Homo sapiens: one gene and its partner. The protein of the gene in region 2 purifies or fractionates together with the protein of the main gene of each other region. This does not show direct contact. Each region holds a gene or a part of one and is shown on either strand. Other genes may lie near its edges.

Evidence for each region. The genes of interacting proteins can lie anywhere in the genome.
Region 1: the proteins of LGI2 (region 2) and PARN purify together in Homo sapiens (affinity purification with mass spectrometry; one large-scale study listed by BioGRID and IntAct). This does not show direct contact.

The regions. Positions count from the first base shown.
Region 1 is NC_000016.10:14,577,560-14,581,808, forward strand, and holds part of PARN (poly(A)-specific ribonuclease PARN), read right to left. Parts: intron 3,385-4,249; coding exon 3,315-3,384; intron 1-3,314. UniProt on the Homo sapiens protein: 3'-exoribonuclease that has a preference for poly(A) tails of mRNAs, thereby efficiently degrading poly(A) tails.
Region 2 is NC_000004.12:25,027,241-25,033,271, reverse strand, and holds the start of LGI2 (leucine-rich repeat LGI family member 2 precursor), read left to right. Parts: upstream 1-2,325; 5' UTR 2,326-2,578; coding exon 2,579-2,775; intron 2,776-3,038; exon of another isoform or gene 3,039-3,164; intron 3,165-4,693; coding exon 4,694-4,765; intron 4,766-6,031. UniProt on the Homo sapiens protein: Required for the development of soma-targeting inhibitory GABAergic synapses made by parvalbumin-positive basket cells.

The sequences.
Region 1 (4,249 bases), on a different chromosome or scaffold from region 2:
CTGGGCTCAAGCAACCCTCCTTCCTCACCTTCACAAAGTGGTGGGATTACAGGCATGAGCCACGGCACCTGGTCCAGAAAACCCACTTTACTTACTTACTTACTTACATTTATTTATTTATTTTTGAGATAGAGTCTCACTCTTGTTGCCCAGGCTGGAATGCAGTGGCGCAATCTCGGCTCACTGCAACCTCTGCCTCCTGGGTTCAAGCAATTCTCCTGCCTCAGCCCCCCCAGTAGCTGGGATTACAGGCACCCATCAACACGCTCAGCTACTTTTTGTATTTGTAGTAGAGACAGGGTTTCGCCATGTTGGCCAGGCTGGTCTTGAACTCCTGACCTCAGGTGATCCGCCCGCCTCAGCCTCCCAAAGTGCTGGGATTACAGACATAGGCCAACGCATCTGGCCATAAAACCCACTTTCTAAGGGGGTTAAGAATGAATGCCTATACTTAACCAAGTTATTCCAATAAATAATAATAAAAACAGGCCATGCATGGTGGCTCACGCCTGTAATCCCAACACTTTGGGAGGCCAAGGCAGGTGGATCACCTGAGGTCAGGAGTTTGAGACCAGCCTGGCCAACATGGTGAAACCCTGTCTCTACTAAAAATACAAAAATTAGCAGGGCGTGGTGGTACGAGCCTGTAGTCCCAGCTACTCAGGAGGCTGAGGCAGGAGAATCACTTGAACCTAGGAGGTGGAGGTTGCAGTGAGCTGAGATCACGCCACTGCACTCCAGCCTAAGTGACAGAGTGAGACTCTGTCTCACCAAAAAAAAAAAAAAAAAAAAAGAGGAATAAAAACAGTTCTTGGCTAGGCGCGGTGACTAACGTCTGTAACTCCAGCACTCTGGGAGGCCGAGGCGGGTGGATCACCTGAGGTCAGGAGTTCGAGACCAGCCTGACCAACATGGAGAAACCCCATCTCTACTAAAAATACAAAAAAATGGCCGGGCATGGTGGCACTTGCCTGTAATCCCAGCTACTTGGGAGGCTGAGACAGGAGAATCACTTGAACCCGAGAGGCAGAGGTTGCGGTGAGCCGAGATCACGCCATTGCACTCCAGCCTGGGCAACAAGAGTGAAACAACATCTCAAAAAAAAAAGAAAGAAAAAAAACACAGTTCTTATTTTGTATTTCAAATCTTGCAGGAATATTTTTCCTTTAATGATGAAGAAAATATTCTTCCTTTACAGATTGGAAAAAAATAGACCAAAAAAATAATCACAGAAGGATTCCCAAATCCCACCTCCTATTCAACTACTCTTGGTATGCATCTAGGTTTTACAAAAAAATTCTGAATGGACAGATGTCCCAATTCAAAATAAGCCTACACATTTACTGTCTAGTTCTTTTCAATAATAGTCCTGCACAGTATTAGCAATATTAGATTGATCTAGAAATACAGAAAGTCTCAGCTAGCTTTTTTTTCTTTTTTTTTTTGAGAGGGAGTCTCACTCTGTTGCCCAGGCTGGAGTGCAGTGGTGTGATCTTGGCTCACTGCAGCTTCCGCCTCCTGGTTTCAAGCGATTCTCCTGCCTTAGCCTCCCGAGTAGCTGGGAATACAGGCTAATTTTTGTACTTTTAGTACAGACCGGTTTTCACCATGCTGGCCAGGCTGGTCTCGAACTCCTGACCTCGAGTGATCTGCCCGCCTTGTTCTCCCAAAGTGCTGGGATTACAGGCGTAAGCCACTATACCCAGCCCAGCTAAGCTTTTTAATCAAAGTTTATTTTGATTGCTCTGCATGTTGGTCACATACATGACTGATAAACTAGATGCAGCCCACATCTAACCCAGTTTGCATCCAACATCTGATTTTATAAGGAGCTGACTTTAGTGGAGAAGCAGGATTACTGTTTTAATATTTACAGCGTGTAAATATTTACAAATGACTACTCAAGAGACTGAGGTGGAAGGGTCACTTGAGCTCAGGAGGTGGAGGCTGCAGTGAGCCAAGATCATGCCACTGCACTCCAGCATGGAAAAAAGAGCAAGACCGTGACTCAAAAAAATAATAATAATAATACAAATGAGTCAACATCTCTCAGTTGAAAAATACTGCAGAACAATGAATTTAACATCAAGTACATAAAAATGTAAGGGAACAATCATAATTGGACCTATATTTAGCTGGCCACGGTGGTTCACACCTGTAATCCCAGCACTTTGGGAGGCTGAGGTGGGCAGATAACCTGAGGTCAGGGAGTTCGAGAGAAGCCTATTCAGCATGGTGAAACACCATCTCTACTAAAAATATAAAGATTAGCCAGGTGTGGTGGTACATGCCTGTAGTTCCAGCTACTCCATAGGCTGCAGCAGGAGGACTGCTTGAACCCAGGAGGCAGACATTGCCGTGAGCTGAGATTGTGCCACTGCACTCCACATTGCAGCCTGGGTGACAGAGTGAGACACCATCTCAAAAAAAAAAAAAAAGAACTATATTTAACATCAATCACCTGTGGGTTCCATGGTCTACAGCAAAGGCTACATTTCCAAAGACAAACACTGCCCCAAAAAATAAAAGAGCTAAGAAAATCATGTTTTCTACAGGCGCCCGCCACCGTGCCGGCTAATTTTTTGTATTTTTAGTAGAGATGGGGTTTCACCGTGTTAGCCAGGATGGTCTCAATCTCCTGACTTCATGATCCGCCTGCCTCAGTCTCCCAAAGTTGGGGGATTACAGGCGTGAGCCACCGCGCCTGGCCAGGAAATTTTCTTTTGTTTTTTTTGTTTTTTTTTTTCAGACAGAGTTTTGCTGTGTTGCCCAGGCTGCAGTGCAGTGGTGCAATCTCAGCTCACTGCAACCTCTGCCACCTGGGTTGAAGCAATTCTCCCACTACAGCCTCCCGAGTAGCTGGGATTACAGGCACATGCCACCACGCCTGGCTAATTTTTGTATTTTTAATAGAGACGAGTTTCATCATGTTGGCCAGGCTGGCCTCGAACTCCTGACCTCAAGCACTCTGCCCACCTCAGCCTCCCAAAGTGCTGGGATTACAGGTGTGAGCCACCACACCCGGCCCCTCATAGGAAATTTAAATGCCAGAACTACCAGTTCTTTTTCTTGGAAGAGATCTACTATACTACGTCTAGCAATGTTTTCTTTTTTTTTTTTAAGCCTATATTTTTAATACATTTGTTCCCCAAAAGGTCACTTTCTACTTTCAAAAAACATGTGAGTCACTCGAGATGAAAAACAGCTTATCTAAAAATGTGTTATAGCTCCCAATAACTCCAAACTGACATCCCAAGATATGAGGCTGTTCCACAGTGAGAGAACTTGGAAACTGGAACTCTCTGATTACTTACTTGTTAAAAAAAGGTTCAATGAGTTTTGATCTGGCAGACACATGAATTTTTGGAGGGCTGAGAAAAGAACCTAATGAAGAAAAGAAGAGAGGTATTATTATTCATAGTCACATAGACCAAGCCTGAAAGTTCAGACCAAAACAGATTTAAATTAACAGCATGGTTCAACAAGTGTGAAAGGTATTCTTTTTTTTTTGAGTCAGAGTTTCACTCTTGTTGCCCAGGCTGGAGTGCAATGGCGCAATCTCGGTTCACTGAAACTTCCACCTCCCAGATTCAAGTGATTGTCCTGCCTCAGCCTCCCGAGGACCAGGGATTACAGACATGTGCCACCATGCCCAGCTAATTTTGTATTTTTAGTGGAGACAGGGTTTTTCCATGTTGGTCAGGCTGGTCTCAAACTCCTAACCTCAGGTGATCCACCCACCTCAGCCTCCTAAAGTGCTGGGATTACAGGAGTAAGCCACTGCGCCCGGCCTGTGAAAGGTATTCTTACGCACCAAGTACCATACCACAGCAAGTGTCAGTGGTTTTTCTTGCAGATTTCCTCCTCCCCTCATCTCCTCCCACTCCTACCTCAAAACCCTCCCACTTTTAATTGGGTGAGTGGATCCCAAGGAAATGGTAGTGCTATAGGTTCAATGTTTGTGTCCCCCTAAAATTCATATGTTGAAGCCTCCCCAGTACGATGGTATTTGGAAGTGAGACCTTTGGGAGGTAATTAAGTCACGAGGGAATTAGTGCCCTTATAAGAAGGGTCAGGAGGCTGGGTGCGGTGGCTCAAGCCTGTAATTCCAGCACTTTGGGAGGCTGAGGTAGGAGGATCACTTGAGCCCAGAAATTCTAGATCAGCCTGGTTAACACAGCAAGACCCTGTCTCTATAAAAAAATTAAAAAGTTAGCCAGGCACAGTGATGCACACCAGTAGTCCCAGC
Region 2 (6,031 bases):
CTGCAAGATGTTTAGTAGCGTCCCCAGCCTCTACACATTAGACGCCAGGGGCACCCACCCCAAATATCTCCACACATGGCCAAGTGTCCCCTGAATTACCCGCAATTGAGAACCACAACACAAGACAGTGACTCTGATTACAATGGAAGGACAGAAGTCAGGAAAACCCATCTCCCTCCATAGTCCTCTCTCCGTCACTTACCTACAATCTAGTCACATAGAACTCTGCTCAAACGCCCAGTGCCTCCTTTGTGGTATTAAATGCTTTACTTTCTTGATCTCATTTAACCCCCAAATGTGGTTACAACAACCTCTTGTTTACAGGTGAAGAAATGGAGGTTTAGAAAGATCACAGCTTGCACAGCAGTAAGTGGCAGGCTGGGATTACACAATTACACATCAGTAAGTGGTAGGCTGGGATGCAAACCCCAACCTGTCTAGTCCTGAGGCCAGCATTTAGCTATGCCACCCTGCCCCCAGGCTCTCACTCAGAGGTGAGAAATAGATTTTCTTTTCCTGGGTCAGCAGGGAGTGCTCTGTTTGAGAAGCCTCCGTTCCTCTGCTCTATAAAGCAGTAGCCCATCCCTCTTAAGGGAAACATCTTTCAGGTGCACAGCACACACATCCACGATTGTGGGTCTGCATGTCTGTCGCCCTCCCAGGCTGTGGTCTGTGTCCTCAGCCCCTAACACTGGGGCTTGCTGAGTAAAGTATTTGTAAATGCATGCCCACACAGCAGCGAGGGTTAGACACAGCAGCCAGTTGTGGAGTATGATCTCCCTGGCCATGTCCTGTGTGATCTTGGACAAGATAAAAACTTCTCTGAGCTCAATGTTCCCATCCATAAAATGGGAGGACCCATTTCTCAGGACAGATGCAAGAATTAAATGATGATAAATGCAGGCTGGTTTGTACTGATGCCAGGTGCTTTTTACATAGTCACCAGCAGGGAATGTCTAACTCCCTCCATGAAGTTGCCTACGCAAAGCTCTCTTTCAATTCCTGAACCTCTTTTGGTCAGTCTGTGACCCCCTTGTAGCCAGTGGAGTTGCTCTTTTAGGGTTGTCTGTCCAGCTAGACTTTTAGCTCCCTGAGGACAGGAGCTGTTCCTTTGTTCCCTCCCACAGCAGCCAGCCTGATACCGTCCTCATGGATCTTGTCAATGGATCACCAACAATAATTGCTGAAGAAGCAATAGTATGATTCCTACTTTTGCATTCGATACTGACTTTTCTGAGTAGGTTTTAGCATCTGGCATGCTTTTCCTTGGTTTGCAGCTCGACAGTCGTGCTGTGATTCCCTTCTCCCAGCAGTTCAGGTTATTAGCCATTACTTTGTTTCCGCTTTGGTCATTTTCTTTGATTTCCTCAGCCGCACATTACCTGTGTTAAGATTTCCGCTCATTGCTTCAAACTTAAGGAGTTGAAGAGGGGCTCAGGAGGGCCCAGTTAAGGTAGCCCTTCAAGGCTCCGAGCCCCATCCTGCCCAGCCAGGAGCTGCTGGACCATCAGCCAGTCAGGATGCTTTCTGGGCGTCAGCAGCCTCATCAATAAATTAAGGATATAAGTAGGACCTGCCTCAAAAGGTTAGAAGATTAAAAGTACAGTGGCTAGAATGTATCACACCCTCAATCTCTACAAACCCTCCTCTGACTGGGGCGGGTGGGGTGACCCGTGGGCAGCTGAGCGAGGGGAAACTTTCCCGGGCTTTCCAGCTCTTTAGCAGGCAGCAGGCAGGGCCCAGAGCGCCGGGCGTGCAGGCTGCAGCGGCTTTGCTTCCCCACGTTCCTCCCATGGGAGGACTGGCTGGCTTCAGTAACCCCTGGTGCTGTGGGAGCGAGAGCCAGACCTCACTGCCCCACCGCAGAAGACAAGCAAAGCCATCCTCGCTGACCCTACCGGCAGCATGCACTTCAAAATTAATAAAGGCTGCTCCAAAGTCTCTCCTCTTCAAAGCACCCAGGGCTGCCTCCCTCCCCAGTAATCAAGCCGGTTCTCCACACTCCCCGCTCCGACTTTATTGATTTGCCTGAAAGGAACCCAGTGCCCTCCCCAGATTATACCCCTGGAGGTATTGCAGGCATCGGATCCTCCACCGCTCAGTCAGGCCCCGACGGGGGTCTCCGCCAGGCTTGGCCCCTCCCCCAAGGTCACCCAACTTTTCCCTCTGTCCCCGCGCCCGGCCCGGGGCGAGAGGGGGTGGCGAGGTGGGGGCCGGGTGGGGCGCCACGGGGCCGGCGCTGGCCCCCTCCCCCGCGGGGCGGGCCCCGCCATGCATTATTCATTGGCCAGAGCCGGGCTGCGGGCGCGAGTGCTGATGTCAGGCAGGCGCGAGTGCGGCGGGCGCAGCGGCGGCGGCCGCCCAGCAGCCCGGGCTCGGGTGGGGGGGCGCCGAGTGGGGGTGGCGGCCAGCATGCTGCTCGGCTGCGGCTCGGCCTCCCACACCCGCGGCTCCCTAGTCCTCGCCAGCAGCGGCGGCGGCAGAGCAGCGAGCGGCGCCCGCGTCTGCAGCGGCGCCGGGTCCGAGCGCGCGGCGCGGCGGTGGGGGTCGGGGCCCGGGCGGGGAGCGGGGACCGGGCATGGCGCTGCGGAGAGGCGGCTGCGGAGCGCTCGGGCTGCTGCTGCTGCTGCTGGGCGCCGCGTGCCTGATACCGCGGAGCGCGCAGGTGAGGCGGCTGGCGCGCTGCCCCGCCACTTGCAGCTGTACCAAGGAGTCTATCATCTGCGTGGGCTCTTCCTGGGTGCCCAGGATCGTGCCGGGCGACATCAGCTCCCTGTGAGTGGGACCCCTCCAGCCCCCATCCCGTCCCGCCCCACCCTGCGTCCGCCGCCGCGAGGGAGTTGCCTCTGGCGCCGGGCCAGCGCGACCCTGACCCACTCCCCAGGCCCCTTCTTTGCCTTTGTGTGGGGGACGTGGGTGGAGTGTTGGCCCCCGGGGAGGACGGTGAGGACCTGAGCCCCAGAATCTGGGAACCCAGACAGGTTCCTGTGGCAGCGTTTCTCAGAGTGTGGCCCACGGGCCACCTGCATCAGACTCACCTGGGGAAGCTTGTGCCAATGCAGAATCCAGCTGCTCTGAAGCAGTCTTTGGAGTGGAGTCCTGGAGTGTGCGTTTGACGTCCCCGGGAGACTCAAGGGTGCATTAAAGTTTGAGAGGGCGTGTGCGTGTGTGTGTGTGTGTTTGCGGGTTGGAGTTGTGTGTGTAGGGGCGTGCATAGGAGCAGCTGAACACGACCTGACTGAGTGCAAACTGGGCAGGGTGAGGCCTCACTGCCCCACATCAGGTCTGGGGCGAATGTTCACCCCGTGGCCTCCTCCCGACTTCTCCACATTGCAGGTTGCAAAAAGTCGAGGTCAAGGCATGCAGGCTCTGGGAGGGGAGGGGCCGCCCCCCGTGGCCTAGAAGAGGGGTAACAGAAGGCTGGGCAGAGGTTTGGGGCATGTTGGGCGCCTAGCCCAGTGGCCAAGTGCTTTGAAGTCAGCCTTCTTGCCCTGAGGTCAGGAGGGCTTCTTGCCCCCTTTCTCCATCACACAGTTGTGTTGGCTGCTTTTTCAGCAGGAGGAACTGACAGGAAAGGGCTTCACATTAGGTATCCACCTGCCGAGAGGTGCTTTCATCCTGCCCTCACCTGGCCACTCAAGCCAAATGACCAGCTCTCACAAGGGCGGTGGAAGGGGCTGTTGGGCTGTATCTTTACTGCTAGGACATGTTTCCTGCTAAGACCACTCTCTTGTTCCAGGCCAAGATGCCTGGGTGCCCAGTCAGTGGTGGAGGCAGGGAATCCCCGGGGTGACGTTGCTTGTGCTCAAGATACTTTCTTGTGTCCAGTGCTTCCCAGCCTCCCACCCAAGGCAAATTGTAGGGGCCTGGACCCAGGAGTGAGGGGGTTCCCATTTGCATTTATAGAAAGTCAGAAGAGTTTGGCTGGTGGGAACAGAGGACCTTTTTGATTCTTAATATTGCTAAGTCGGGTGACATGGAGGATTCCAGAAATTAGAGTTCCCCTTATTAAATCCTTCAGACCAGCAGCTGCTTAAGTGATCTGCATGCCAACTGAAAGGAATTCTGAAATAATGTATTCAGATCCTGCTGTGGCCAGAAAGGATGGGGGCCTGGGGGCAGAAATAAAGCCAAGCATCTTGCCTCCTGGTTGACCGTTTTATCTGGCAGATGGTACTGCCTCTCCCCACACAGGGGAGTTCAGGTGTCTGTGAGTTTTTCCCCAGGGCTTTCATGTTGCATTTAATCAGGAGTGCTCTGTCTTTCAGAGATGGGGTCCCAAGAGGAATGCTTAATCCTACCCCAGCATTTCATAGGCCAACACAACGCTGTGTCTACACAAACAGAATCATGGGCAGAGGTGAAGCGATTATCCATTTTCAGGCAAGGACCTCCTGTAGTTAAGAAAAGGAAGTGAAGGGATTGATTTAAACTGACCGAGATAATGTCTGTGGAAGGAGCTGATGGTAAAGGTTTCTGTTATTCAGACTAGTCTTCATATTGATCTGATTCATTGGGAAGTGGCTTGTCTCTTCTTATTCCTACCCCGGGGAAGATCCTGGGCAACTGTGCTATGCCTCACTCCTGAGAGTCAGGGTTTGAAGTACAGGTGGAGGCAGAGTTTGATTACCCACCCTGCATGGCACTTCCTAAAAGAAACCTAGGCCTACTTTTGTTCATCTTTTGCCCGTAGGAGCCTGGTAAATGGGACGTTTTCAGAAATCAAGGACCGAATGTTTTCCCATCTGCCTTCTCTGCAGCTGCTGTGAGTATGGGAAGTTCCCTCTGCACAATGGGGGGCCCTGAGGTGCCATCCTTGGAGGGCCGTCTCTGCCTCTTTGGTATCAGCCCTTCCTAAAGTACCCCAGCTCCGTGAGGAGACCGTGGCTGCCTCTTGGTGTTAATTTACCCTGTGATGTCCCCAGCAAAGCACTGAGGCTCCCTGCTCAGCTCTTTCCTTAGTTCGATACCTGTTTTCTTCAGAGACTTTATTGTAGATCCCAACACCCAGATCTAGTAAATGGGGAGGTAATTGCATTGACTCATGACCTGAAAGTCACCTAAATGCACTGTTTCCCAAACACCTCAGTTTAAAAGAAAACTTCATTTTAAAATCTTAATGTTACTCTGGAAATAGGAGTGTTTCTAGTTTGCTGAGAACTTAAACCAGTCAGGCAGCATCCTATGAACTTACGTGCGTAATTTTATTTCATCATCACTTCATCGGTATGATGAAGGCATGCTTATGATCCCATTTGATAGATAAGGAAACTGAGGTTCAGGGAACTTAACTAACTTGTCCCAAATCAGAGCCAGATTCTAGTCCAGGGCCAAAAGCCCACACTCCTAACTATTCCTCATCCCATCTCCTCTCTGTGAGCAATGCTCAAGTCCCTGTGGTGATGCTCATGTTGTGCCCTGTAACCCAGGCTGGGTAATGTGTGCTGATGAAAACAAATGTCCAAAAAGTAGTTTTCAAAAGCAATCCAGTGACAGGCAAAGTAAGAGTACACACCTCATTCTCTTGATCTGTGTTGGTTTCTTAAATTTGAGATGAGACTGAAATTAAAACAAGCAATGTGCTATAGAAAAATTTGGATAAATGGAATATAGGAGAGCACTATTCATCCTCAATAAACATACTCTTGATACTTTTGTTCTTGAAATCTTATATGCCTACTTTTAACATTACACTTAACATTTTAAAATCTGAGGCCTCTTAGAAATTGCAGTGCTATTAAAATATACTTTTCATATAATAGAAATACAATTTTAGGTATTCTTTTGCCAGTAGACTTGGGTGATGACTCAAATAGAAAACTACGTAGTAACAGTCTCCTGAAAGTTTCTTAAACAAACTTTTTTTTTTTTTTTTTTAACTATTGTTATGGGTCCAGCTGCATGACTTTGGTCAAGTCACTTAGCTTCTCTGGGCTTTTATTTTCGTAAAAATAGATTTGGATTAGATCTTTTTAGATCTCTAATTTTATGATTGCTTGTGTACCATAAAGCATTCACTGGCTGTTTAGTC